Regions from separate parts of the Homo sapiens genome. Here region 1 is linked to region 2. Evidence: fine-mapped expression QTL. A gene starts in region 2. The other region holds a variant in brackets. All regions are shown on one strand. Distances are from middle to middle.

Region 1 (12,540 bases), 580 kb before region 2:
GTCAGGCGGCGCCGCTTCCTCAGCGGAGGGCAGAAGCTCCAAGAGGGCGGCCGGCCTAGCAAACACCGTAACTACCCCCGCAGGCCGGATCCGGCGGCGACAGGCTCGGCCGCGCAGGAAAGAGGGGCGCGCCGCCACTGTGCAGCCTGGGAGTGAAGGGAGCAGGCAGTCGTCGCGCCGGGGACGGCGGGCAGCAAACAAGCAGGAAAAGGGGGCATCGCCAGGCGCCCGCGAGGCTCACAGGAACGGCCCTGTCACCTAGTCCGCTCCCTCCTGCGTCTTACCGTCCTGGACAAAGACTCCAAGTCGAAGGAGACAAAGCTTGTAACGCAATCACGGGAATCACGCAGCTGACTGCGTCGCGCACCAACAACAAAATGGAGCTGACAGCTGCTGCGTCGAGACTCGTCTCGAAAACACTGATGACGCAGCGAGCGCGTCTCCGCCGCGGGGCGGGTCATGCACGGGGCGAGCAGGCGGAAAGGGCGGGCGTGTCGCGCGCGCGACCATCGTGGGCGCAGGCGCCAGGGAGGGAACCAGAGCCCGCTGTGGCGGATGAAAGGAAGCCGTCGGCGTGTTGTCCCCACTCACTGATAGTTTTTGAACTCTAGAACAAGGAACAACTTGTGAACAAGGAAAAGTGAGGGAATCAGTATACACAGTAGCATGTACCCTGTTAGCGACCACTAAAACAATTGCTTTAAAACTAATACTTCACGGCGCGGTGGGTCACGCCTGTAACCCTAGCACTTTGGGAGGCCGAGGCGAGCAGATCGCTGAGCCCAGGATTTCGAGACCAGCCTGGGCAGCATAGCGGGACCCGTCTCTAAAAAATAAATAAATAAATAAAATATACCACTAGCGTCAGATGGCTTCAAATTACTAATGGGATCAGTGTGAGCCAACAGAAATCAATGTTCTGCACCTTGATCCTCATGGTGCCTGCATCAGGCCCAACGTGGGCAGCCAGCATACCTCCCTGTCTATGATACTTTTATGGCCGTAACTGAGCACACATTCTAAAAATAAGCTCCTTGATAAGTTTTGAAGGGAAGGCCAGCGTTAAAGATACAGAGTGGCAGCTCTACAGCAACTGCGGGCTTTATGTCCAGCCTAAGACCTACAGAAGTGGGGAACCAGCCTAATGCCAGTGCCCACCAGTGGGGTACTTTTAGGTAAGGGCGGGAGGGGCCTGGGCCATATGGCTTGCTGACTTGCTGCCCTGCAGGATGTTAAGATGTTCCCATAATGAGGCGGTTCTGGCCCTTGTTCCCGCAGAATGTGGTGGTAGTTTTTTTTGTTTTGTTTTGTTTTTGAGACGGAGTCTTGCTCTGTCGCCCAGGCTGGAGTGCAGTGGCGCGATCTCCACTCACTGCAACCTCCGCCTCCTGAATTCAAGCGATTCTCCTGTCTCAGCTTCCCCAGTAGCTGGGACTGCAGGCGTGCGCCACCACCCCTCGCTACTTTTTGTATTTTTAGTAGAAACTCCTGACCTCAGATGATCCACCCGCCTCGGCCTCCCAAAGTGATGGGATTACAGGCGTGAGCCACCACGACCCCCCGGGAATGTGGTGTTCTTTGCACTTTCTCCCGGCAGAATATGATAGGGGTGTTTCTTTAGTTGCGCCTTTGTCCGTTTTGTGGTCAGGTGGTTAGGCAGGATGTTTCTCACAGCCCGAACCCCTGTGGAATGTTTCACTTTGACCAAGGTCTGCAAAATAGAGGGTGGGGGAGACCAGGCAGGGCTGGGGAAACGGGGCAGGGCGGTGGGGGGGCAGGATTTACAAAATGGTGCAGTTTGGACTAACACTCCTAAAATCAAAAAAAACATATTTGCACCACTAATTAAAAGTGGCAGAGTTTAGAATAAAACTTGGAGGAGGTCAGACGCAGTGGCTCACGCCTGTAATCCCAGCACTATGGAAGGCCAAGGCGGGTGGATCACGAGATCAGGAGTTCAAGACCAGCCTGGCCAAGATGGTGAAACCCCGTCTCTATTAAAAATACAAAAAATTAGCCGGGCGTGGTGACAGGCACCTGTAATCCCAGCTACTCGGGAGGCTGAGGCAGGAGAATTGCTTGAACCTAGGAGGTAGAGGTTGCAGTGAGCCGAGATCCACCATTGCACTCCAGCCTGGGCAACAGAGCAATACTCCGTCTCAAAAAAAAAAAAAAAAAAAGTGGCAAAACAAGGTCTGGCCAAAGAAAGGCCTTAATACTAAGTCTAGAAACTTAAATGATTAAAATTTTAAAAGTGAAACAAAATGTAAAGTCATTAGTATGCCGGGTGCGGTGGCTTACGCCTGTAATCCCAACACTTTGGGAGGCCAAGGTGGGTGGATCATGAGGTCAGGAGTTTGAGACCACCCTGGCCAACATGCTGAAACTGTCTCTACTAAAAATACAAAAACTAGCAAGGCGTGGTGGTGCTCACCTGTAATCCCAGCTACTTGGGAGGCTGAGGCAGAATTGCTTGAACCCGGGAGATGGAGGTTGCAGTGAGTCAAGATCGCGACATTGCGTACCAGCCTGGGCAATAGAGTGAGACTCTATCTCAAAAAAAAAAAAAAAAAAAAAGAATTGCTTGAACCCTGGAGGCAGAGGTTGCAGTCAGCCGAGATTGCGCCACTGCATTCCAGCCCAGGCGACAGAGTGAGACTCTGTCTCAAAAAAAAAAAAAAGTCACTAGTATAACTGGCACTGTTACGGTGGGTAGCTAGTCAGGTATGAACAAAGCAGGAGATGGCTCCCCCAAACACACACTAGGAGTGTCGGGCAACCATCAGGTGAGATGGTCAGGCGGTTATTAACTCTCTTGCTGAAGTAGTAATTGGTCACAGCTGGCACCAGGGAACGGCAGTCTCCTAATAGAAAACACCTGAAACTGGTGAGCAGCAGCTTCCCAATAAGATCTCAGGAGTTGGGCAAGTGGGGAGAAGTAATGCAAGACCTTGGAAGTATGCCAGTGTATAAAACGCCAAGTCAAAAGCTCAAGCCACACATTTATCTTTCAAGTCGCCCGCTTGGTCCTCTTCCAAGCGTACTTCCCTTTCTTTCATTCCTCCTCTAAAGCTTTTTAATAAACTTTCACTCTTGCTCTAAAACGTGCCTCACCCTCTCCTTCTGCCCCTCAGTCGAATTCTTTCTTCTGAGGAGGCAAGAATTGAGGTTGCTGCAGACCTGTACGGATACAGATTCGCTGCTAGTAAAAAGCACCTCAGTTTAGTGGAAGATATAAATGGTGACAAGAGGATAGCTGTAAGCTAACTCCAAACTAGTCAAGAAAGAATCAAAACATTAATTAGACCAGCCATTGGAAGAAATGAGACAAACCAAGAACTGATGCCAAGACAAACATTTTGAGACGGAGTTTTGCTCTTGTCACCCAGGCTGGAGTCCAACGGCACGATCTCAGCTCACCGCAACCGCCGCCTCCCGGGGTTCAAACAATTCTCCTGCCTCAGCCTCCCGAGTAGCTGGGATTATAGGCATGTGCCACCACGCCCAGCTAATTTTGTATTTTTAATAGAGACAGGTTTTCTGTATGTTGGTCAGGCTGGTCTCGAACTCCCAACCTCAGGTGATCTGCCCGCCTTGGCCTCCCAAAGGGCTGGAATTACAGGCATGAGCCACTACGCTCGGCTGGTATAAGTTTTAGGAACACCCAAATCCAACCACTGTGATCTAGGCAGTGGGCAGAATATGGTCTTGATGAAATCAGTGGTAGAACCCAATGAATGGCTTGATGAGGTGAGAGCCCTGTGGTGGACATGAATGTTAGGACAGCAGCTTCTACTTACTTACTACATGCCAGAAGCTTTACACACATTTAACCCTCACAATTGTCTTCTGAGGTATTATTTATGGATGAGAATACTAAAGCTTGAAGATGTTAACTTGCTTAAAGTTACACTGTAAGGGACACAGCTGTGATTCAAACACAGACCAGAACTCCACAAACTGGTGCCTTTAACTAGTTCATTGCATTTTTCAAATGGATATTCTGTAAAGCTCCACTCTTCAATATTTTCAGAGATATGCCTTATGTTCTCACTTGTAATATAACCAAGTATCCTAGCCTTGAAATGCATTTTAAAGTTTTTTTTTTCCTTTTTTTTTTGAGACAGAAGTCTCTGTTTCCACGCTGGAGTGCAGTGGTGCAATCTCGGCTCACTGCGACCTCTGCCTCCCAGGTTCAAGCAATTCTCCTGCCTCAGCCTCTCAAGTAGCTGGGACTACAGGCGCGTGCCACCACGGCCAGCTAATTTTTGTATTTTTAGTAGAGACGGGGTTTCACCATGTTGGCCAGGATGGTCTCGATCTCTTGACCTCATGATCCGCCTGCCTCAGCCTCCCAAAGTGCTGGGATTACAGGCGTGAGCCACCGTGCCTGGCCCTTTCTTTCTTAATTTCAGAATGTAGTCTTGTTAAAACCGTTTCCCTCCCTTTCCCGCCTCACACTCCCTTATACTATGCACATTTATCTAACTGTACACTTGTTAAACTTACACTATACACTCTTATCTATAGGGTCTTAACTCTCTTGCCCAGGCTGGAGTCCAGTGGCACGACCATGGATCACTGCAGTCTCTACTTCCCTAGCTCAAGCAATCCTCCCACCTCAGCCTTTTAAGTAGCTGGGGCTACCACATCCGGCTTTTTTTTTTTTTTTTTTTTTTTTTCAATTTTTAGTAGATTCAAGGTCTCACTACGTTGCCCAGGCCGATCTAAAACTCCTGGGCTCAGGTGATCCTCCCACCTTGGCCTCCCCAAAGTGCTGCGATTATAGGTGTGAGCCACTGTGCCTGGCCCATCAAGGGCTAATCATGACATATACCAGGCTTGGAGACCCAGCTGCAAAATTCCAGAGATTACCTTAAGGTGGTTAGTCAACAACCCAGCCATTGTTGAGATGATGCCAGCCCCCACTCCAGGTGGACCACAACTCAAGATAGCCACTACAGCAAGCCACAGAGATCTGAAACCCTGCACCACTCCCGCATGCCTCCCATTCTAAGTTCCCTTTTTAAGCACCTCTCCCCAGCCTAAAGTTCAAAATGATTTCTTTAAGGTACTAGCTTTGGCCATTTCCCCACTGCTAGCTCTGGAATAAAGTCACTTTCCTTTTCCTGCATCTCCTCCTTGTTGTTGACTTTGCAAGTGGCGTGCAGCCCAGCCTGCATTCAGTTACAATAAATGGGAGCTAAATCTTGGATTCACATGGACAAAAAGATGGGAACAGTGGACACTGGGGACTCCAAAAAAGGAGGAAGGGGCAGGGGCAAGGGCTGAAAAGCTTCCTTTTGGGCACTATGTTCACTGTCTGGGTGACAGGATCAGTAGAAGCCCAAACCTCAGCACCATGCATTATACACTTGTAACAAACCTGCACATGTACCTGCTGAATCTAAAATTAAAAAAAAAAAAGATATGCCTTAAAAAATGTCCATGAGCAGGCCGGGTGTGGTGGCTCAC[G/A]CCTGTAATCCCAGCACTTTGGGCGGCCAAGGTGGACGGATCACCTGAGGTCAGGAGCTCACGACCAGCCTGGCCAACATGGTGAAACCCTGTCTCTACTAAAAACACAAAAAAACAATAGCTAGGCATGGTGGCAGATGCCTGTAATCCCAGCTACTCGGGAGGCTGAGGCAGGAGAATCACTTGAGCCCGGGAGGCGGAGGTTGCAGTGAGACGAGATTGTGCCATTGCACTCCAGCCTGAGTGACAAGAGTGAGACTATGTCTCAAAAAAAAAAAAAAAAGTCCATGAGCAAATCAGTTGGGAAATGTTGAGTGTTTACTGTATTCCAAGACATCTTTTTTTTTTTTTTTTTTTTGAGATGGAGTCTCCCACTGTCACCCAGGCTGGAGTGCAATGGCTCGATCTTGGCTCACTACAACCTCTGCCTCCCGGGTTCAAGTGATTCTCCTGCCTCAGCCTCCCAAGTAGCTGGGACTACAGGCACCCGCCACCATGCCCAGCTAATTTTTTATATTTTTAGTAGAGACAGGGTTTCACCATGTTAGCCAGGATGGTCTTGATCTCCTGATCTCGTGATCTGCCCATCTTGGCCTCCCAAAGTGCTGGGATTATAGGCGTCAGCCACCACACTCGGCCTCCAGGACCTCTGAGAGCCTTTACTGTAAACCTAAAGATCACACCTGTAATCCCAGCACTTTGGGAGGCCGAGGTGGGCAGATCATGAGGTCAAAAGATCAAGACCATCCTGGCCAACATGGTCTCTGTAAACCCCGTCTCTACTGAAAAAAAAAATACAAAAAGTAGCTGGGCATGGTGGTGTGCACCTGTAGTCCCAGCTACTTGGGAGGCTGAGGCAGGAGAATCACTTGAACCTGGGAGGCAGGGGTTGCAGTGACCCGCTGCACTCCAGCCCGGGTAAAAGAGCAAGACTCCGTCTCAAAAAGAAAAAAAAAAAAATCAGAGAAAATAGCAAATGGATTGGCTGGCCTTTCCAGACTAACTTTTTATCCTGTCCCTCCTCTTTCTAACTGTATAAAGTGAATAATTAATGGTAGAGCTCTTACCGTTAGTATCAGTTTCAGGAATACCCAAATTTTCAGATTTGGGGATACTTGCATATACATAATAAGATATCTTGGAGATGAGACCCAAATTTAAACATGAAGTTCATTTACGTTTCATATATACCTTATACACATAGCCTGAAGGTAATTTTACACAATATTTTAATTAATTTGTCCTACGATTTAATTCTTTAAAACTTTTTAAATTTTATTATAAAATAACACTTCCAGGATACGGACTTGCTGTGGGAGGAATATGTAATCAGGCCACTCAAAAATGCCTGCACTTGAGGCTGAGCATTTAAAAATGAATGTTCATATGTAACAAAAATTAAATGATGTATTTTTTGTATTAAAATTAAAGAAATATGTTGGATAATCATTATAATAAAGAATATGCTCTAAGAATGGGGATAAAAGCTGTTGGGCGCCCCTTGGTACCACCATTTCATAGAAGATCATAGTTGTAAACAAGCAGAAGGATGATGCAATCTCTGACATAATTAAAACCGGGTAAACCACAATAAGTGTGTTCCAGCAATTTGTCAAGTTATTTGTCCAGGTCTATCATAGCTACTGAGCAAATGGGTTGGCATGAATAGTTATGTCCTTAATGTGTACATCATTAAGAGGTCGGTATGTCTTCTCATTTACTGGCAACTTCTCCAACTCATCTAGAGTTTCCAGACCATCTATTACCCTGAAAGAGAAACAACATAACATATGAAAATTTCCTTAAATTGAAACATGATATCCATATCTATGACAATTACAGTCTCCTTAAAAAATAATCAAGTCTTACAGATCTCTGAGTTCTCTAGTTGAATGTACAACAAAATGTTGATTTTCCATCATAGATATGGATCAAAATTCAGAAATAATTTACTTTTATGCCCTTAGTCAACAATACAAAGGGTAGGAATATTTCCACCATAGTACCTAAAATTATATTCTACCCCATTCATACAGTGACAGAGAACAGCTACAAATGGGACTAATATAACCAGTTAAAGGGAAAACAAACTGTTTTTCTACACTTTCATACTTCCAACACCAAATGTGTGGGTTTTCCCAGTTCTCCAATTCTCTGGGTATCCCACAACTTGATTATTTTTTCAAAATTTTATTTAATTTTTTAAAGACAGGATCTCACTGGGACTACAAATGCATGCCCCCACACCTGGCCCTATAATTTAATTGTGACACTAACTACAAGGAGTGAACAGAGACCCCGGTTAATCCCACAAGACAGCCCCTACCACTTCGGATGCCAGTTCCAAGTCCCGATTGTGATCTGTACTATCTGACTAACCATGATATAATTTGGGATTTTTCATGCCCCCCAGCTCTGTTCAATAATTTTCAAAAATGGCTCATAGAACTTAGGAAAGCACTTTATTTATTACTATGGGCTATTATAAAGGTTACAACTCAGGAACAACCAAATGGAGGAGATGCATAGGGCAAAGTCTGAGAGAGGGGCACAGCGCTTCCATGCTCTTCTCGGGGTGTGTTACCCTCTTAGTATCTACTTGTGTTCACCAACCTGGAAGCTCTCAAACCCTGTTTAGGGTTTTTACGGAGGGCACATTAGGTAGGCACGATTAATTAAATCACTGGCCACTAGTGACTGGAACTCAATCTCCAGCCCTTCTCTCCTTCCCAGAGGTCAAGAATAGGAGGTCACTGAATGTTCCACCCCTCTAAAAATACATGGCTGATTCCTCTGGCAACCAGCCCTCCATACTGAAGCTATCTAGAACCCCACCAAGAGTCACCTCATTAGCATAAACTCAGGTATGGTTGAATGGGGTTTATTATGAACAATAAAATATTCCTTTCACTCCTGTCACTCAGGAAATTGCAAGGTTTTTAAAAGAACTATGCTGGAAACCACGGATGAAGTCCAAATATGTATGTCTTATTACAACACACTAGTCATAAAGATTTCTTTGCTACAGGAAATACATGGAGAAAGTATGTAGATGACACTATTAGCAATACTGCCCTACAATGAGAGTCCTAAAGTAGGTGACCACTCCACTTTGTACTTGTTTTTTTTTTTTTTGAGATGAAGTCTCGCTCTGGTCCCCCAGACTGGAGTGCAATGGTGTGATCTCGGCTCACTGCAACCTCTCCTCCTGGGTTCAAGCAATTCTCCTGCCTCAGCCTCCCAAGTAGCTGGGATTATAGGAGCCTACCACCACGCCTGGCTAATTTTTGTATTTTTAGTAGAGACGGAGTTTCAGCATGTTGGCCAGGCTGGTCTGGCCTGACCTCAGGTGATCCGCCCGCCTTGGCCTCCCAAAGTGTTGGGATTCAGGCATGAGCCACCAAGCCCAGCAGTTAATTGTTTAATTATAGTATTTCTTTCTTTTTTTTTTTTTTTGAGATGGAGTCTCACTTCCATTGCCCAGGTTGGAGTGCAGTAGCACTATCTCGACTCATTGTAGCCTCTTCCTTCAGGTTCAAGCAATTCTGCATCAGCCTCCCAAGCAGCTGGGACTACAGGCACATGCCCCCATGCCCAGCTAATTTTTGTGTTTTTAGTAGAGATGGGATTTCACCACATTGGCCAGGCTGGTCTCAAACTCTTGACCTCAAGTGATCTGCCCACGTCAGCCTCCCAAAGTGCTGGGGTTATAGGCATGAGCCACCACGTCTGGCCTAATTATGGCATTTCTACTTTTTGCTTCTGGATAACAACAAGAAGTAATAAAAATAGGAGAAGAGAAGACTGACAGTTAACAGCCTCCAGCAATCCCACTTCATGTTACCACCAAGAAAAAATATATTGAGAGCTATTCTTCAAATACAAGTTTTGGAAATTTCAGTCTAAAACATTTGCTAAGAAAGAGTGGCTTTTGATCTCTTGACCTCGTGATCTGCCCGCCTTGGCCTCCCAAAGTGCTAGGATTACAAGCGTGAGTCACTGCACCTGGTCATCTGACTGCATTTTGACTGCAACCCGTCACATGAGGTCAGATGTGGAATTTTCTACTTGTGGCATCATGTCAGTGCTCAAAAAGTTCCTAATTTTTAATTTTCAGATTAGGGATTCTCAACCACTGGTATGTACTTTAAAAAATTAACAGATTTGTAGGCCTGGCGCAGTGGCTCACGCCTGTAATCTCAGCACTTTGGGAGGCCAAGGCGGGCGGATCACGAGGTCGGGAGATTGAGACCATCCTGGCTAACATGGTGAAACCCCGTCTCTACTAAAAATACAAAAAATTAGCCGGGCGCGGTGGCGGGCGCCTGTAGTCCCAGCTACTTGGGAGGCTGAGGCAGGAGAATGGCGTGAACCCAGGAGGGTGAGCTTGCAGTGAGCTGAGATGGCGCCACTGCATTCCAGCCTGGGCGACAGAGTGAGACTCTGTCTCAAAAAAAAAAAAAAAAAAAAATTAGCAGATTTGCATTTTATTTTGCATTTTCACAAAATGGGTACTTCAACCAAAACATTTTGATTTTACCCCTAAATATAGACATTTAAGTCTTTAAATTATAAGTCTTAAAGGCTATCCCACCTTCTAGGTCAGTAAGAGAAACAGAGGAGGTAGAAAACATAGGTCTCAGGTAAAAAGTTAAAAAAACCCAGCAGGTAGAACTGAGGCAGTTAAGTAGAGTCAAGTATATGGGAAACGGACCCCTTGGAGAACTAGAGGAAAGTTACTGGATCATCTTCCCAGAAAAATGTGTGTGCATCTGTATACAACAAACAAGGAATTAATGAACCTAAGGTTAATCTTTGTTCTAAACTCTACAGTTTTGTCGCAAATCCAGTAAAATGAGTCCTGGTAATAACTGAACAATAATTTTGAATGATGTTGGTTAAGGGAGAAAATAAGAGGGAAACTGGGTTATTTACAAACATAAAAAAACTACTAGATGTTGTAATATTTCTTTTCTCCTTGATTATTATTAATGTGTAAATTAGATACATGTATATGGAATGAAAAAGAAAAGATCTGTCTAGATCTCACTGCAGCCTTGACACCCTGAGCCCAGCAATCCTCTCACTTCAGCCTCCCAAGTAGCTGGGACCATAGGTGTGAGCCACCACACCTGGATAATTTTTAAATTTTTTTGTAGAGACGGGGTTTCACTATGTTACCTAGACTGGGAGTCCTCTATTTTTAATTAACCTAATTTGGCATCCAAACTATTAAATAGAACAAACTCTAGAATTGTGCCTTGGTTTATTAAGCATGATAATTATTTGTTGAACGAACAGACAAATTGACTTCCCACTGATTTATAAAAGCAACTCCCAGACATAGTACTCTTAATAGATACCCTGGCAGAAACTGTGAAATACCTTCCTAGGAGCCATTCTTCTTACTCGGAGAAATCTAATTTTAGTAAGGGTGGCAATGTGGCTGAAATACATTTTCTACCCTCCATTGTAGGTAAGGAGTGGTCACATTACTAAGTTCTGGGTCTTCTGGGAAAGTTTTTTTTTTTTGAGACGGAGTCTCGCTTTGTCACCAGGCTGGAGTGCAGTGGCGCAATCTTGGCTCACTGCAATCTCCACCTCCAGGGTTCAAGCCATTCTCCTGCCTCAGCTTCCTGAGTAGCTGGAATTACAGGCACGCACCACCGCACCCAGCTAATTTTTGTATTTTTAGTAGAGATGGGGTTTCACCATGTTGGCCTGGATGGTCTTGATCTCCTGACCTCATGATCTGCCCTCCTTGGCCTCCCAAAGTGCTGGGATTACAGGTGTGAGCCACCGCACCCGGCTTTTCTTTTTTTCTATCTTTTTTTTTTTAGAGATAGGGTATCATTGTTGCCCAGGCTGGAGTACAGAAGTGTGATCTCAGCTCATGCAGCCTGGAACTCCTGGGCTCAAGTGATTCTCCCACCTCAGCCTCCTGAGTAGTTGGGATTACAGGTGTGTGTCACCACACTTGGCTAATTTTTAAATTTTTTTTATAGAGATGGGTTCTGCTATGTTCCACAGGCTGGTCTTGAACTCCTGGCCTCAAGTGATCCTCCTGTCTCAGCCTCCCAAAGCACTGGGATTACAGGCCTGGGAAAGTTCTGTTAATTAAAAAAGGTGAATCAGCTGGCAAGCACCTTTTGTCTTTCCTCCCCTTTCCTCCCTGATACACAGAAGTTTTGATAAGAGCTGTGCTGCCAATATTATGACAGAGGCGCCTAGAACACTGGTAACAAAATGGAACCACCATGCCAGTCCATCTTGTTTAAGCCACTATTTTTCAGATCTGTTAGTTGCTGTGAAATGCTATCATTAATGAAAATGGACCAGCCTGGGCAACATAGTGAGACCATGTCTCTAAAAAAAAAGTGTTTTTTTTGTTTTTTTTTTTTTTAAAGTAGCTGCGCATGATGGTACACATTTGTGGTTCCAGTTACTCAAGAGGCTGAGGTGAGAAGATCACTTGAGACCAGGAGGTTGAGGCTGCAATGAGCCATGACTGTGCTACTGCACCATACTCCAGCCTGGCGACAGAGCCTTTCGTCTCAAAAAAAGAAAAAGAAAAAGAAAATAGATATACTATGTTAATTTGCATAACAATATTGAAAAATTACTGGCCTCTTTTACAAAATAAGGAAAATAAAGCTCAGGGAGATTATAACTTTCCCAAGGTCACAGGGTTGCTAAGTGGTAGACTTAAACTCCAGGTACGTTTAGCTCTCACACCACTCTTCTTTTCTTTCTTTTCTTTTCATTTTTTTTTTTTTTTTTTGAGGCAGAGTCTCACTCTGTCGCCCAGGCTGGAGTGCAATGGCATGATCACGGCTCACTGTAACTTCCGCCTCCCAGGTTCAAGCAATTCTCCTGCTTCAGCCTCCTGAGTAGCTGGGACTACAGGTGTGTGCCACCACATCCAACTAATTTTTTAAAATATTTTTAGTAGAGACAGGGGTTCTGCCACATTGGCCAGGCTGGTCTCGAACTCCTGACCTCAGACAATCTGCCCACCTTGGCCTCCCAAAGTGCTGGGATTACAGGTGTGAGGCACTGCGCTCG
Region 2 (16,896 bases):
GCCTGAATAACCCCAAAGAGAGGTAGGTGCCTATAGTGGAAAGCGATACGAGCAGAGAGCAAGCTGGGCATGGTGGCTCACACCTGTAATCCCAGCACTTTGGGAGGCTGAGGTGGGCAGATCACGAGGTCAGGAGATCGAGACCATCCTGGCTAACACAGTGAAACCCCCGTCTCTACTAAAAATACAAAAAATTAGCTGGGCAAGGTGGTGGGCGCCTGTAGTCCCAGCTACTCGGGAGGCTGCGGCAGGAGAATGGCGTGAACCCAGGGGGCGGAGCCTGCAGTGAGCCGAGTTCGCACCACTGCACTCCAGCCTGGGCGACAGCAAGACTCCATCTCAAAAAAAAAAAAGAAAAGGGCAGAGAGCAGAGATTTGACGCTTGGACCCCAAACATGATTTACTTTACAAAAATGATGAATTTTTGAGCAATCAATTTTCTAAATTGACTTGCATTTTAAACATAAAGAGGCAGTTAACTTCTGAAAAGGTCACAACACCATGTGGAATAGGGATGAGGCAAATTCAGTCATCAACTGTGGGCCTCACTCCACAGGCACGCCCCCCATTATCCTCTTAAACATCCTTTCTTTTCTGAGACAATTCCATACCACATCTTTTCTCACTTATCTCTGACCCTCTATCTGTTCTCCATTTCTCTTATTCTCATTCCTCCCACTGATAAATCCATGTAATCTATAGCTAGCTTTCGCTCCAAACTGAGAATTATGGACAAACATAATCTCAGTTATGCACTTGCACACTTGTTGATCAGAGTGTAAATTAGTATTCCTCTTAGAGAAAGAACTGGGTGGCTGGAAGACAGAAAGGAGAGAGAAACTTACTTTTTATTATATACCTTTCAATTTTTCTACCATGTGTATATGTATACCCAGTTAAAAAGTAATTAAATATAACTCAACAGTCCTATTCCTGCCTTCTCTAAACCTTGCTCCATTAATTATCCCTATCCTCCATCAGTTTCACCTTCTTCTTTGGCTTATTAAACATGCTCAAATTCTTTTATTTTATTAAAAACTACAATTAAAAAAACCCCTACCTTTCCCAAGTCTTTGAGTTCCCCTCTACCTACCCTCTGTCCTTACTCAAGCTTCTTCAAATACTCTCATTTTGTCTCTCCCACCTCTCATTCATACCTCAACCCCACTACAACCTGATTTCATCCTAAACCACCCTCCTTGGGTCATCAACAGTCCCTGCTAATCAATCCAATCATGACTTCTTAATTGTTATCTGATGTCATCTCTGGTTTATATTGTTGACTACTCCCTGTTTCAACTTCCCTTCCTTGGCTCTCCTGGAGAGAGAGAGATCTTACAATGCTCATTCTCAAACTCCTCACTGGATCATCCCATTCCCTCCCCTTGGTCTTTAAATGTTAGTGTTTTCCAGAGTTCCAACTGTGACCACGTTTTGTATTGTTCTTGTTGTAGCTGCTTTTTCATTACCTTTTTGCCAACCAACCACTACCACAGATTAAATTATCTTTTTAGTGTTAGTGACTCCCAATCTGGCTCTTCAGACAGACTTCTTGACTCCACTCAAATTTCCCACAGGCTGATTATGATCCACTGAATACTAGATTCCTCCATCCCTCATCCTGTCACATCCAATCCATTAACAAATCCTGTACACCCTACTACCAATATATACCTCAAATCTACTCACTTTTCTCCATCCTCTCTTCCACCATCCTAGTTCAAGCCATCATCATCTCTTAGACTATGAACCAACAAACCTCCTAACAAGGCTCCATGCTTAATCATGGCCTTAAACAGGGTTCTTCTCCATTCTCTATAAGCAGCAAGAATAGTGTTTTTAAAGCTAAACTCCTTCTTAAAAAAAATCCAGGGCGGCCGCAGTGGCTCACGCCTGTAATCCCAGCACTTTGGGAGGCCAAGGTGGGCAGATCACTTGAGTTCAGGAGTTCGAGATCTGCCTGGACAGCATGGTAAAACCCCATCTCTACAAAAACATACAAAAATTAGGAGGCATGGTGGCACGTGCCTGTAGTCCTGGCTACTTGGGAGCCTGAGGCAGGAGAATCGCTTGAACCCGGGAAGCAGAGGTTGCAGTGAGCCGAGATCGTACCACTGCACTCCAGCCTGGGTGACAGAGTGAGACTCTGTCTCAAAAAAATAAATAATAAAATAAAAATAAAAAATAATAATAATACTTAAAAAATCCAAAGGTTCTCATAGTAACGACAATAAAACCACACCTCTCATCACAGTCTGTGAGGTCTGGCCTAGTCTGGCCCCTGCCTGCTTCTCCTCCCTCATCTTGTACCACTCTCCTCCTTGCTCATACTCAGTCACAGAGACACAGACCTTTTGTTACTTCTTTTAATTCTTCATCACTCTCTTAACTCTGGGCCTTTGTAACTGTTGTTCACTGTACCTGGAATACTCTTTCTCTCTTGTTCTCTATATGCTAACTCCTTCTCACATTTAAGTCTCATTTTAAAACTTACCAGTCTACTTGATCTAAAGTAGCCTCCTCTGCCCACCTTTGTTCTCTAACTCGGCATCTAATTTGTTTCTTTCACACTATAATTTCACATAAATTGTAATAATATATTTGTAATAATATACAAAATTATAATATATGTGTGAAAGAAACAAATTAGATGCCAAGTTAGAGAACAAAGGTAGGCAGAGGAGGCTACTTTACTTTTTCTTGAAAGGAAAGAGAGGGTGCCATTTTCTCTCTCCTCCTTGCTGATCAGAAGAGGAATATAATATGCCAGAAGCTCAAGCAACTCCATAAATAATTGGTGTTGAAATGAACTATTAGCTAAACTGGTGGGGGAATTCTTTCACCATTAACATGCACAATTCATCAACTCCATTGTTACACAATAGAGTATAACACTCTTAAATTAGACTCTATTTAATCATTCCTTCCTTTTTTGTGACTTGTCAAAAAGCTTTCTAAAAAGAAAGAACTCAAAGTTTGGCAAACACTGACAAATAAATATAGATAAGCTCCAAGGACCTCAAGGATCTTTACAAAATGAATTCGTTCCACTGCTATACCACCAGCAGACTTTGTACGCTCATTTTCTAGCATGAATAAACCACAATACGGGGTAGTTAAACAGGGTATCTTCAAGAGGTTATGTGAGTCAGTAGTAAAGCTAAGAATAAAGCTAGAACATCACTTATATATAAATATTAAGCAGCCAGTTGAAAAAGAAAATTTCAATACAATGACCTCAATTAACAACTGGTCAAACAGCTGTTCATTGAACAGCTTTCAACAAATGCCACTTGAATTAAACCAAAAGTACTAAAAAAAGATAAATAGTAGTATACAACAGCCTCTGCCCAAAGGGAGGTTAAAGATTTAAGAAGTCTAAGCTCCAAAAGGGACAGCTCTAATGATCTGGATTAGATCTAATATCCAATGAGCTAAGAAATCTAAGAAAATAAGATAGTACCAGATAATAAATATTTGATGAGTGTTACAACAGAATTGTCGGGAGAGAGCTCTTTTCTAGCTGAGGTGGTCTGGCTTCACACAGGATGTAAGATTTAAGTGGACTCCCTAAGGAGGAAAAGATTTGGATAGGTGAGGAGACTATCTGGTAGGAGAAAATAATAATGATAATATCCAACAGCAAGTAGCAGACAGAGCCAGGTTGGCAGCATATACAGACCAATTTGAGTGGGAAGAATTATGGGGAAGGTATTTGGAGATTTAAATTTGACTAGTTCAGATTAAGAAGTCTGAACTTGATCCTGCAGGGAACACATTTCTAAATAGAAGTGACATTTGAGAGAAATAAATGTAAATGCAGGATGCAGGATAAATTTTGGAATGGAGAGATTAGAGACAAAAATAATTAGAAAATTTTATCACATTTACGCATGGATTATTTTAATAAAGGTATAAACTAGGTGAATGGAAATTTTAAGAAGGATTTACGGGTTTGTGAGATAGTGAAAACAGGACCTGTTAACTGATGAGTTGGGGATAGATGAACTTTTTCCTCTCCTAAAAGATAACTACATCTGGCATATGCCTCAATTACTCAGGCTTGAAACCTTACAACTTCTCTTGCCCCTCACTCCCCGAGAATTCTCTTCCCCAGACATTTCCCCTCCCTGCAAACTAGCTTCTCCATCTTCCCCAACCACACAACATATTCCAGCCAAAAGAAAGAACTGCATTTACTAGCTTCCTAGACACACCAGGAAATTCTCAGTCCTGTAACTCTGTCCATGCTATTTCTTCTAATTTTAATGTCCTCTCCCCATTCTACATATCCAAATTCTAGCCATGCTTCCCACACCAGCTCAATGCCACTTTTCCCAACAGGCCTTCCCAGAAACCCCAACTTGAAGGAGGTATTGCCTCCGAACACTTTCTGCTCTTCTCTAAAACAGTTTTTAAAACCTTAGAGCTGTTCCTTATCTCCTCTGATAAACTGCATGCCTCTTACAGCAAACATACTTATTTTTGTATTACTCTGCCCTCTTTTCACAAATAAAGAGCTAGATAAATATCATATAGCAACAGCACAGTGTAAAGCCAAGAACACAGACTCTAAAGACAGACTGAGTTTGAATCTTAACTCTGCTGCCTGTTAGCTATGTGATCTTGGACAAGCTACTTAATCTCTCTGTGCTTCAGTATGTTTACGTTTAAAATGAATAGTAGGTATTTCAAAAGGTTGTCAAAGAATTTGGCTTAAATCTGTGTCAGCACCATAAAAGTGTCTATTAAATACATAAGATCACTTTTTAGAGTGGAAAAATCTGAATATTCTGATAGTTGTATAAAGCTTTATGATCTATACAAGGAAAAGCAAAATGTCAAAATAAAGACAGCCTCTGGGTACAAACAGCTATATACAAATTCTTTCCCTATCTTCTTATGTACACCCTAAGGGTTAGCTGTGCCCTTTATAATGTTATATTAACAGTGGCTCTGTTTTAGTTAGACATTTCAATATTCTGGGAAAACTGTTAGTTCAGCATCCTGTGGCACTAGCTACCTTGGTTACCTTGTCTCCGGTCTTATTACCTTTCATTTATCCTTTACAAGTCTTAGTCTTTCTAAAATGCAAATCTAATGCTTTTCCACTGCTACAAACCACCTCCATCCCATCTTCCTTAGGATAAAGTTTAAGCCCCTTGGCATCTCATGTAAAATCTTCCTAATCCAGCCCCAGCCTAGTCTCCAGTTTCATTTCTCTCAACATTTATCTCTTCACCAAAAAACCTCAATCACCTAACCACAGCTTAAAGGCTTTTTGTATGTCAACTTCTATCACCTAACCACAGCTTAAAGCCTTTTTGTATGTCATTCCTTTTGCCTAGAACACCTATTTGTTAGTTTGCTAGGGGTTCCATAAAAAACTACCACAGACTGGGTGGCTTCAACAACAGAAATTTATTTTTTCACAATACTGGAGTCTGGAAGTCCAAAATCAAGGTGTTGGCAGGTTGGTTTCTCCTGAGGCCTCTCTCCTTGGTCTTCTTGATGAATCCTCACATGGTCTTTCCTTTGTGTGTGCAACTCCTGTGTCTCTTTTTGTGCTCAAATTTCCTTCTTATAAGGAAAACTGTCAGACTGGATTAGAACCCACCCTAACGGCTTCATCTGAACTTAATCACCCCAAAGCCCTGTCTCCAAATACAGTCACATTCTGAGGTTACGGCTGTTAGGGCTTCAATATAATTTTGGGAGGACACAATTCAGCCCATAACAACCCCTTCCCCTTTTCTCTGCCCAGGCTAATTCCCATTTGTTTTCCCAAGACTGGTCCAAGCCTTCCCACTCCAGAGTAACTTCAGTGTTCTTTCTCTGTGCTCCCAAAGTACCTCGGCAAGCTGTGATCCCATTGCTCAACACACTATGTTAATTGTCTCTTTCCTTCTTCAAACTACATTCCTTAAGAGCAAAGACTAAATTCCTAGCATTGGCACAGTGTGTGGCACACAGAAGGTGTTTAATAAAGATTTGATCACTGAAGGAAAATGAAAGAAAGAACAGGAACCTTGAAGTACGACAAGCATGGGTTCAAATCCTGATTCCACAGTTTACTTATCTGTGACTCTGAGCAAGTCATTACATGCTGAACTTCCATTTTAAATAAGGTAGTTGTAAAGACAAATGACTAACTCATAATGAAAGCACCCAGCTGTGGGGCTGGTACACAGTAGGTTCTCAATAAATGTTAGATTACAGATTTTGATCTTGTCTTCTCTGACACTCAGTACTACCATGTAGTAGCTACATGACCTTTGGTATATTTACTATCTTCTCTTTGCTTTAGTTGCCTATCTATAAAAACACCTCAGTGCTATTGTGAGGATAAGTTAATATAGGTAAAACATTATCTAACACATAGTATTACATAAATGTTTCCTATTATTATAAGAACACTGCAGATCTGAACAGATAATGACTCAACTATGAATAATTTAGTTCTTTTAATTACTAAGTCATTTAAATGTGACTATTACCTTTTTGCCTCCTATTTCTTACCAACTAAACAGGATGGTAACTAAAGAGGTTCAAAACTGGTACAGATAATATAATGAGAGCTCACAATAAACATGAAATAAGACATTATCTGTCTCATTCCTTATACTGGTATTTAACATATTTGGGGCACTAAAGCAAAGAAAGTTTCAGTGGAGAATAACACTTCTCTGCTCGTATTTTAATTTTTTTTAGAGATGGCGTCTCACTCTGTCACTCAAGCTGGAGTGCAGTGGTGCCATCATCGCTCAAGGGATCCTTTGATCTCAGCTGGCACTACAGGCACAAACAACCACACCCAGCTATTTTTTATTTTTGGTAGACATGGGGTTTTGCTATGTTGAACAGGCTGGTCTCAAGTCATCCTCCTGCCTCGGGCTCTCAAAGTGCTGAGATTACAGGTGTGAGTCACCACACCCAGCAGGGTCATATTTTTATTTGCAGACTCACAAAACCTGTAAACTGAAAAGAACCTTTTGATAAAAGTCCAGTCTTATAATTTCTTACATAAGTGAGATGGATTTGGAATGGGCTTTTCGGGTCTTACTGAGCAGTTCAGTAAGAAATGGGAATTGTAGGCAGAGAGAATCAGTTTGTTCAAAAGTACTAAAGCAGGGGTTCAGGACTTATTCCAGATGTCCAAGGTGTGTGTTGGAACCAGTCTTAGACAATAACACTAGACAATCCTCTTTAACCACTCAACCTTTAAAGTCTATAATTTCTGAAGTACGTATTAGTTACCTGATCTGTGACTTGGAAGCAAGGCAGATCTAGATTTAAATCTCCCCTTGTTACATAAGCAAGTCTTTGAGCCTCAGATTAGTGTGATAGGTTTGTTAAAGTGATTAAGTGAGCTAAAGTATGAAGAGCTCCCACCTGGGGTGCCTGGCAGATTGCAAATACTAAAATGTTGGTTCTTTTTTTTTTTTTTTTTTTTTGAGACTGAGTTTCACTCTTGTTGCCCAGACTGGAGTGCAATGGCTCGATCTTGGCTCACCGCAACCTCCGCCTCCTGGGTTCAAGCGATTCTCCTGCCTCAGCCTCCTCAGTAGCTGGGACTGCAGGCATGTGCCACCATGCCTGGCTAATTTTTTTTTTTTTTTGAGATGGAGTCTCGCTGTTGCCCAGGCTGGAGTGCAGGGGTGCAATCTTGGCTCACTGCAACCTCTGCCTCCGGGTTCAAGCAATTCTTCTGCCTTAGCCTCCGAGTAGCTGGGACTACAGGCGCGTGCCACCACGCCCGGCTAATTTCTGTATTTTTAGTAGAGACGGGGTTTCACCATATTGGCCAGGCTGGTGTATTTCCTTTCAGTAGAGACGGGTTTCTCCATGTTGGTCAGGCTGTTCTTGAACTCTCCACCTCAGGAGATCTGTCCTCCTTGGCCTCCCAAAGTGCTGGGATTACAGGAGTGAGCCACAGCGCCCGGCCAAATGTTGGTTCTTTCTAACAAACCTCTTCCATCATATGAATAAGTGTGTAAGATAACAAAACACTGTCTTTCACATGGTATGTGCTTGCTAAATGTCTGAGACTTGCTGGACATTACTTAATTTTAAAAATAGAAAACTGGAGCTGGGTGTGGCGGCTCACGTCTGTAATCCCAGCACTTTGGGAGGCCAAAGCGGGTGGATCATGAGGTCAAGAGATCGAGACCATCCTGGCCAACATGGTGAAACCCCATCTCTACTAAAAACACAAAAATTAGCTGGGCGTGGTGGTGCGCGCCTGTAGTCCCAGCTACTCTGCAGGCTGAGGCAGGAGAATCGCTTGAATCCGGGAGGCGGAGGTTGCAGTGAGCCGAGATCACCCCACTGCACTCCAGCCTGGCGACAGAGCGAGACTCTGTCTTAAAAAAAAAAAAGAAAAGAAAGTTGGAATAACTGCTAGGATGATAAAATGTCTTCATCCCTGACCTTTCTCACCTCCAAATGTCCTTCACAATTTGTTTTTAAGTGTCATGTCACCACCATTAACCTGCTATTTGGAGACTACTGTACCTCAGACTTCCAAGTCAACAGCAAAGATCTAAAGGTCGGGAAGATTTACGGAGACCAAGAACTGAAAGTGTTCCTTTTGTTCCTATGGTCCATTCCATCAACTTGATGAATATCCTGTGAAGTTACCTTTTTTTTTTTTTTTTCTGACGTAGAAACAGCAGGTCTAAGCAAAAGGTGCATGAGCAAGAGCAAGTAACATCCCTATTATTATGACGCAGATTTTTTTTTAAGTTGAAATTCAATTTTTGGGCTGCTACTAAAAAGGACATGTGCGAATATCTATTATTTACGCTTCAAACTAAAGTCAGCCGTTTTTCTTTTTCAAGATATGTGGCATCTGGCTCAAAATCAATTGCAAGAAAAGCCCAACTCTATTTGACCCAGAAAGAGCTCTTTCCAATACCCTCTCCTCCCACTTACATCACAGATGGCGACTGAAGCTTAAGGTTTAATGCCCGACCCTAAAGCCACTCATCCTAAAAGACAGGGCTCCAGATGGATGCTGTATGGCAGAGGATAAGGCGCTATGAGAAGCTGCCAAGCCTCAGATGTGCAGCTGGGCTGAATACCGACGCCAGCGCCTAGCGCCCATTACTTTGCACCCACACTTAGGAAACAACCCACGCCTCACCGCGGGACCCGGACCCAGCCCTCCAGCACCCAGCCTCCGGCTCCGACGTCCGCGCGTGACCTCCGGGTACCGGAGGACCTTGGGACGAGGAGGTCCCTCCGCTTTCCGGGGAAGTTGTCAAGGGCAAGTTCGGGTTCTGCGCGGACAGCTTACTCACTGGAGTGGTTCGGCATCCTCTGTCGTCCGCCCGCGCTTCCTCAGGAAGCCCCTAATGCAGCGGCAGCCTGAAAGCAGCAGCCGAAGCTGCTGCCGCTGCTCCCACTGCCAGCAACCGCCCGGGCGTGGCAGGGACAGGCGGGCGACTTCACAACATCATCACTCGGCGACCTCGGTTCTGCGGCGACACCGGGTCAATGGCAGCCCCCACACAATTGGGGAAGCCAAAGGAGAGCCACTCTCCCAGCGGCCTCCACGGCCCCAGCGCAAGACCTGCTGGGAATTGTAGTTTCCTGCCCGCCCCGCCTCAAGCTCGAAGGCCCCGCCTTCTCGCTGCCCAGCCCCGGGGAGGGAGGCGGGGCCGCGACCCCGGCGCGGGTGGGGCGAATGCGTTCCCAGCGGGTAGCCTGGGACTGGTGCAGAGTTCCAAGCCCACGGCCCCGGTCGCGGCCTCGCCGCCCTCCCGCGCCCCGCGCCGGGAGCGGGCCTAGAGCGCTCGCCTCGCCCCTCCGCGAGCAGGGCTCTGGCGCCCGCCCCTGTCCGCACCGCTGGCAGCCTGAAGAGAGTCGCTGGCCGTGGTCGCCGCTAGGGTAAAGACGGGAGGCAGGCCCGGGAAGGGAAGGTGTCGGGGCCGGTGGGGGACGTGTGAGGGAGTGAGCCTTGGTCCGCGCACGCCCGGGAAGCCAGAGGCCAGAACGCGCTAGCCCACCTCCAGCCCGAGCACCGGCGGCTGGCGGGAGCCGTGGCAAGAATGCGGCCCGAGGTGGCGAGCAGCCACTGCGCCAGTGCAGCTCGGGCTCAGCGGGGCCCGGGCCGCGGGTTCGCAGCCCGCCCAGTGGTGCCTGCCGGGTTGGCCGTGCCGGCCGTGCCAGGTGCGCGGGGCCCAGGCCGCCCGGGCGCCCTCTCCCCGCACCCCTCACCTTTGGCCGCGCTCTCGGGCTTGGGGAGTTGCCATATCGAAGACACCCTCAGACCCCAGCTCTATCTGCCGCCTTCTGCAAGTTCGCTGCAAAGTCCCCCATAGCAGGACTAGGAAGGAACCTTTTACAAAATTAAATACTCGAGTGTCGTTTTGTCTTCGGTTTTTCAATTCAACGCTGTGTTTTTCCCTGCTGGGTCTTTGTCAAGTACCTTTTCCCCAAAACTTGATACGGATGTGTAACACGGCGCCTGCTTAGCACGGTGCCTGGCACCCAGTAGGCGCTCAGTAAAGATTTGTTGAACGCATGAGTCACTAAGCTTGGAAAATTCTCCTGAACTGTGCGTCGCTATGATCTTTGTTAAGATTTTATGGGTTCCCAAGATCACTTTGAAAATTACAGTAATTTTAAAGCTCAACAAAGAGTTACATCGGGTCATTTTTGCATTCCCTGTAACAGTGGCCTCTGTTGAATGCCTAAATTAACTCAAAACCCGTGTTCTAGAAGATGCGCCCTTTGGTTTCTACAGAAAGTGTTAATCTTTCAGATCAAAGTCTTCACATGAACCATTCTATTATGGAACAAACTGAAATTACTTATAAAGCTTTATCGTAATTAGCGTTTTGGATACAAGTGTAAGGGACTGCACTGATGTACTTGTGAATACGAAATATAAGTCTCTTAAATATGACTTTTTTTTAAGAAAGGGTTTATATTCATATCTCGTGAAAGAGCATGCCGGAGAAAATTATAATAACAGCAAATCCCCCACCCCCACCCCTTTGCTGGGTGCAGCTGCTGCCTTGACCTCAAAATGTCTTGTAAAATTATCTCTTAATAGTCTGGTGTATCTAAGGCAAAAATCTCTGAGATTAAACCACCCCATAGGGACAACCCTTTTATTACTAACAATTCTTACCAGATTGTGTCTGTTTCTTCTGAGCTTTTCTGAAAAAGAGAAAAAAATAGACAACGTAATGGAGTTTCACATTATTAAGACAAAATCAGTAACAACTTGCTGACATTGAGTGAAAAAAGCAGGATACAAAATCATGATAACCAGAAAATTTGGTTAATCATGACATCCATAACCCTTCTGCTTGTGGGAAGGTCAGCTACAAGTGGCCAGGGTCTTGTCTGCCCTGATTACCAGCGGGTGTCCACAGTGCCTGACCCATGGTAACCACTCATTAAACACTTGTGTAATGATTACTTGGCTGTTAACAGATTAACAGTGTATTGACTATGATGTGTAGTTTCTTCATTTACTTGGATATCTCCTTAGAATAGATCACTCCGGGGAATTTTACTGGGTCAAAAAGTATGAATATTTTCATGGTTATTGAAACATTTGACAACCTGCTTTCCAAATAAACCTTATAGTTTTGTACTGCCATCAGTACATTTGAGTGTACCTTTCAAAGCATAGTTCAAGCTGATACAGTGTTTGCTAATTAGGGGCACTTTGAGATGTAACTCATTTGATTTCATTCACCCTGGAAGGTTGGCAGGGCAGGCATTGCTTTCCTCCTTTTGCAGCACAGCAAACTCCAGTGCTTTAAATTGACGGTAATGAATGGTAGGTGGCTAAATGATCACAGCCTTTCAGGTCCGTCTTCCTCCCAATCTCTACCTTTGGTTCATAGTGAACATCCTGAATAAATTCACCTCTTTCTTTAGCAATAAAATTGGATATTGCTTTATGGTTTTTATGGTTTACAAAATCTTCCCTTTCTCATCCTGCTCACATATTTGTAGATGGGTTCATCAAATTTGGGGAGTTGAAATAATGAAGCACAATTTAGATGAAAGAGATGATGTTGGTTAGATGTAAAGGGATGCTCTGAACCCACAAACTTACAAGATTGCCACCCTTTCTATTAGTAAAGGTCTGGAAACCGTGGATGGTGCTTTTGTATCTCCTTGAATTAATTTCCTAGTCTGTTATTCTGATTCTTTCCCATATTTGCTGGTCAGGGACCCCAAATGATTTAATACGTAATTAATCCAATAAGAAAGGGCTTTGGAAAGTCTCAAAGTTTAGTTGTAATATGTGGAACCATTGAAAATTCTTGGGGTTTATTGTAAGTGACACTGTTTATATCAAAAGTGGGCCAAAAATTGGTTTTCTACATTGCTTTCAAATTTGCTCAGCGTTCTTTAAAAAACAAACAAAAAACAGTATAGAAAAGATAGGGAAGGAGAAATGCAAACATATTGAGGCTTTGGAAATATTCAGGACTTCTTTTTGTTTTCACTCTGCTTCTTGGTTGTGATGTCAGATCACAAATAATGTTCAGTAAAAAATAAATGCTCTTTAAAGATACTTTTCAGGAATGTCTCCTTGTGTCAAGGAGTAGCTGCCTAAATATTGGGTATCAGGGAATAGCTGCCTAAATATTGGATGGGTTTAAGGCAACTGGTTCTTTAAGGAACTTTTATGTGAATCTAAATTATTTTGCTTTTGTTTTTTATAGTAGGATATATCTGCATCTTGAAAGGAAGATAAAACAAAAGCCTTCTTTGGAATAGATGGATTTTTGTCACTTTCTGTGTGAACTAAAGTGATTCAATGTCTCTTTTGGTAAGTTTTTGTAAATATAGATCTGATTTTGTTCTGTCAGAGTAGTTGGATGTTAATGCCAAGCCATAATAAAAGGCATATTCTGATGGGATATTCTTATGCTCTGAGATATTGTTTTGACCTGATTGACTTCTGGACTTGAGAAATGAATTACATTCTCATTGAGTTTTTCTTTCTTTCATAAAGAACTTCTCGTATACTTCAATATGTTCATTATTCTAATCTTTTGTCCCATATCTACTTTTTCTCATAGGTGTTATACTTTGATATGCCACCCACACCAGTTAGCTATGCCTTATCTTTTAAATCTTTCAGAAATTCCTTTTACAAATTTCCATCTGACCAAAAGCAAGCCAAACAGTATTAAAAATAACCCCTTTGACTTAACCGAAATAAAATCATTTGGATCAATGTATATATGAGGTATAGCTGCCAACTGGTTTTCTATTTATATTTAGATCCGTGGTATCTACTTTAGATTAAGTAGCTTGAGGACTTTCATCCTGTTTTATACATAATAATAATATTTGAATAGGGAATACTTATATTAAAATGTGGTTTTTAAAAAAGTAATGAGTAGACCACGTGTAGTGGCTCACACCTGTAATCCCAGCATTTTTAGGGGCCAAGGCTAGAGAATCAGTTGAACCCAGGAGTTCAACACCAGCCTAGGCAACATAGTGAGATCCTGTCTGTATAAAATATTAGCCAGACGTAGTGTCATATGCCTGTAGTCTCAGCTACTCAGAGGGTTAAGGTGGGAGGATCCCTTGAACAAGGGATCAAGGCTGCAGTGAACTGTGATCATGCCATTGCATTCCAGCCTGGGTGATAGAGGGAGATCCTGTCTCAAAAAAAAAAAAGGATGAGTATATTTGTATGATGATTTATAGTTTACAAATACTTTCATATATTTCTTTCATAGTTTCAAATTGTGTAAGTTTAGCAGGGCAGGTGGCATTATCCTCATTTTCAGTTTGTCCAAGATTGCAAAAAGTTGGAGCCAGACTCATACCTGCCAATCTATTCTATCAATTACCAAGGCTGAGAGGCAGAACTATGAAGTTAGAAGACTGGATTGTTAGTAATATGGAAAATACATAACACAGTTACTTACATGTTTAAAGTAAAGCATTACCACTTGAAAGAGAAGCTTTATATATCTGGAAAATACACGGAGGTGAAATGTTTTATTCTGTAAAGGAGGGATCAGCAAGCTTTTCTGTAAAGGCCAGATAGTATTTACAGACCCTTTGGTCTTTGTTACAGCTACTTTTCTGCTGAAATACTAGCATGAAAGCAGCCATAGGCAATATATAAATGAATGAATGAATGTATCTGTGTTCCAGTAAAACTTTACTCACAAAAACAGGTGGTGGGTCAGATTTGGCTCATGGACCATAGTTTGCCGACCCTTACTCTAAAGGATTACTTAAGATTTACAATTTTATATCAATTTTTAAGTTGGAAAAGATGTGAAAGGGCATTCAGTCTATTCCCTTCATTTGATAGGCGAGAATTGTGAGATTCAAAGGGCTGTGTGTTGCCCAGGGCTTTCAAATTTTGGAAAAAGAATATCTTAGCCTATTATTCCATAATTATGGGTTTTGTGAAAAATAATAGAATGTGATAATGGGTGATTTATATCGTTAATGATTGTAACTTTAAATCACATTTTTCTGCAATGGTGAAATATTTTAAATTCTTTGAATCGAAATATTTACTTTTTTTCCTTAAACGAGAAATTTGTGCAGTTGGGATAAAGTTGATACTTTTACTTAAGGATTCCTCCCCATTCAAGTTTTACCCTCTATTTGAGAACTAAGAAATGCTGTTTTCAAAGGAGCAGCATATGTAAAAATATCTTCTTTCAGTTTCTTTGTAAGGTCTAACTACTTTTTACTTGGCTATTATGATAATGGATAAAGAAATTATATTCAAAAATATTCAAAGGGAAAAGGTATGTGGGGTGAAGTTCAGAGGAAACCAGGCACAAGCTTTCAAGAATCTTTTCTCAGTGGAGTTCCATAGTATATGCACAGTTCCCCCAGAGTTGTGACATGTGAAATGTTGTCTACTAGGGAAGCTCATTAGAGACTTGGACTTAAGGTTTTTATTGGGGACTTGTCACGTAGGCGTGCTCTGCTAGCAAGTAACAAAATTCCAGTCTCCCAGAAAAAAAGCCAGGTGTTCAGCATAAACTGTATTATTTGCACAAACAGTTTAGACACAGTGAGCGATTCTTATGAAGGGAACCTCTGCAAAATCCCAGTTCCCAGATACTAGCCAAGGGTCAACCTTATAAGCAGCTATTTTCTAAGAATAGCAGTTTTAGGCCTGCTGTTAATTCTTCTTTTGCACAGTGGTATTAATGGTCGTTGTGAAAAATTCAAGCTAAATGTTGTAAAAATATATAAATACCAAACAATATATAAATGTCCTGCCCAGCTGGTGGATATTTTCAATATGAACAACAGTAATAAGTATCTTCAAAAACTGTTTTATTATAAATGTTATTCACCCTAGGAAGCCATTAGAAACTCTGCAGAGGAATCAGTTGTACAGCTATCTTGACATTGTTAGCGTCTATTCTTCAGGGTGAGTTTTACATAAAACAGTGGGAATATATACCAAATTTTTGTAATAGATTTATAAAGTATACAGACTGTAGGAATTCAAGTTAAAATAATCAGTAATGAAGGCTAACTGGGACAATGACTAGTTTGATTAGTGAGAAATTCTGGCATATCTTAAAAGGAAATTTATATTTAAGTAATTGACTACAAAGTGTTAAGTAGACATAGGTAGACATATCTTAAGAGACTCATTTGATATTGTACTTTAATGTTAATATAAAAATAAGATGCTTGAAATGAAAAATTCTGAAATGGCTGTGGTGGCTCACGCCTATAATCCCAGCACTTTGGAAGGCTGAGGTGGGCGGAACACTTGATTGAGGTCAGGAGTCTGAAACCAGCCTGGCCAACATGGTGAAATCCCATCTCTACTAAAAATACAAAAATTAGCGGGGCGTGGTGGCAGGTGCCTGTAATCCCAGCTACTCAGGAAGTTGAGGCAGGAGAATTGCTTGAACCCAGGAGGCAGAGGTTGCATCAAGCCAAGATTGCACCACTGCACTCTAGCCTGGGTGACAGACTGAGACTCCGTCTCAAAAAAAAAAAGAAAGAAATTTTTTCAAATATTGAAGTTATCTTGTTATAAAAGCCTCTCATACAATGTGTTTATACTTTTCTTTTGACATACTTTTTCTTCCTAAATAGTATGTCAGCTTCACCCCACTGATTGATGATGTGATAAATCACATGTAGGTGTTACATTTCTTTATTGGCAATAAATAATAATAGAACCATGGGTTAATATGCAGAAAAATGTAAATTGCGATAATAAAAGTAAGTCTCTTTTAATTTGCTTTGAGTTATAATTAGAGATGTTTATCACCTTTAAAAACAATTATTTTTTCACTCAATATGTGGCTTAATGTGAATAAACATGGTTTCTATACTTAAGATAGCTGAGGATCAAAATAAAAATAATTATAATGAATTCAGCAGAATAATCTTTGGCTAAATATTCAGAAGAAAACCTCAGTGATGTTGACAGACAGAGTTAAAAATTAACACCAACAGTTAAAATGAATTATTATGACATCAAGAAAAGAGGGCAAGGATCAGTGATAGCACCAAATAAAATTCTCACATATATGAAGTTTGTCTGCATGCCCAGCCACTTCTCCCTTCTCTCCCATGCTGAGTTCCTCATGATGTGGATCCTGGCTTCAATTCCAAGTTTCTGCAAGTTGCCCTTCCTCTCTTTTCCCCACTGTAGTCATTAGACCTTTTTGTATCTACATACCACCCCTGCTTATCCTGTAACTTATTTTTCACTTATATAATGCATTTCTGACTTCCAGGATTGCTTCTGCACTTCAAGAACACAAGTTGAATCACTCAGACCTGAAAAACAGTCTGAAACCAGTATCCATCAATACTTGGTAAGAAAATGGTTAGGCTGGATGCAGTGGTTCACACCTGTAATCCCAACACTCTGGGAGGCCAAGGCAGGAGAATCAC

Which allele goes with the higher level. Alleles are on the strand shown, and positions count from the first base shown. SD is a standard deviation of normalised expression in the study named.
As copies of G replace A in region 1, the expression in neutrophils of the gene that starts at base 9,693 in region 2 goes up (large effect, 0.84 SD a copy in BLUEPRINT).

Evidence for each region. PIP is the estimated chance that this variant, and not a neighbour inherited with it, causes the effect.
Region 1: its variant is the best candidate, but not a certain one, in a credible set for the expression of STRADB in neutrophils (BLUEPRINT, PIP 0.86).

The regions. Positions count from the first base shown.
Region 1 is chr2:200,864,280-200,876,819 of GRCh38, forward strand. It overlaps PPIL3 (peptidylprolyl isomerase like 3), which reads right to left. Exons shown (of 7, transcript NM_130906.3): 7 at 6,628-7,242. The coding sequence ends at 7,116. CLK1 (CDC like kinase 1) reads right to left here and starts at 379. Exons shown (of 13, transcript NM_004071.4): 1 at 285-379. RefSeq lists an enhancer at 1-98. The variant G/A (reference allele first, on the strand shown) is at 5,476.
Region 2 is chr2:201,442,048-201,458,943 of GRCh38, forward strand. STRADB (STE20 related adaptor beta) reads left to right here and starts at 9,693. Exons shown (of 12, transcript NM_018571.6): 1 at 9,693-9,891; 2 at 12,699-12,805; 3 at 16,737-16,817. The coding sequence starts at 12,794. It overlaps TRAK2 (trafficking kinesin protein 2), which reads right to left and starts at 9,411. Exons shown (of 16, transcript NM_015049.3): 1 at 9,303-9,411. RefSeq lists enhancers at 8,766-9,620, 9,024-9,553 and a silencer at 9,584-10,263.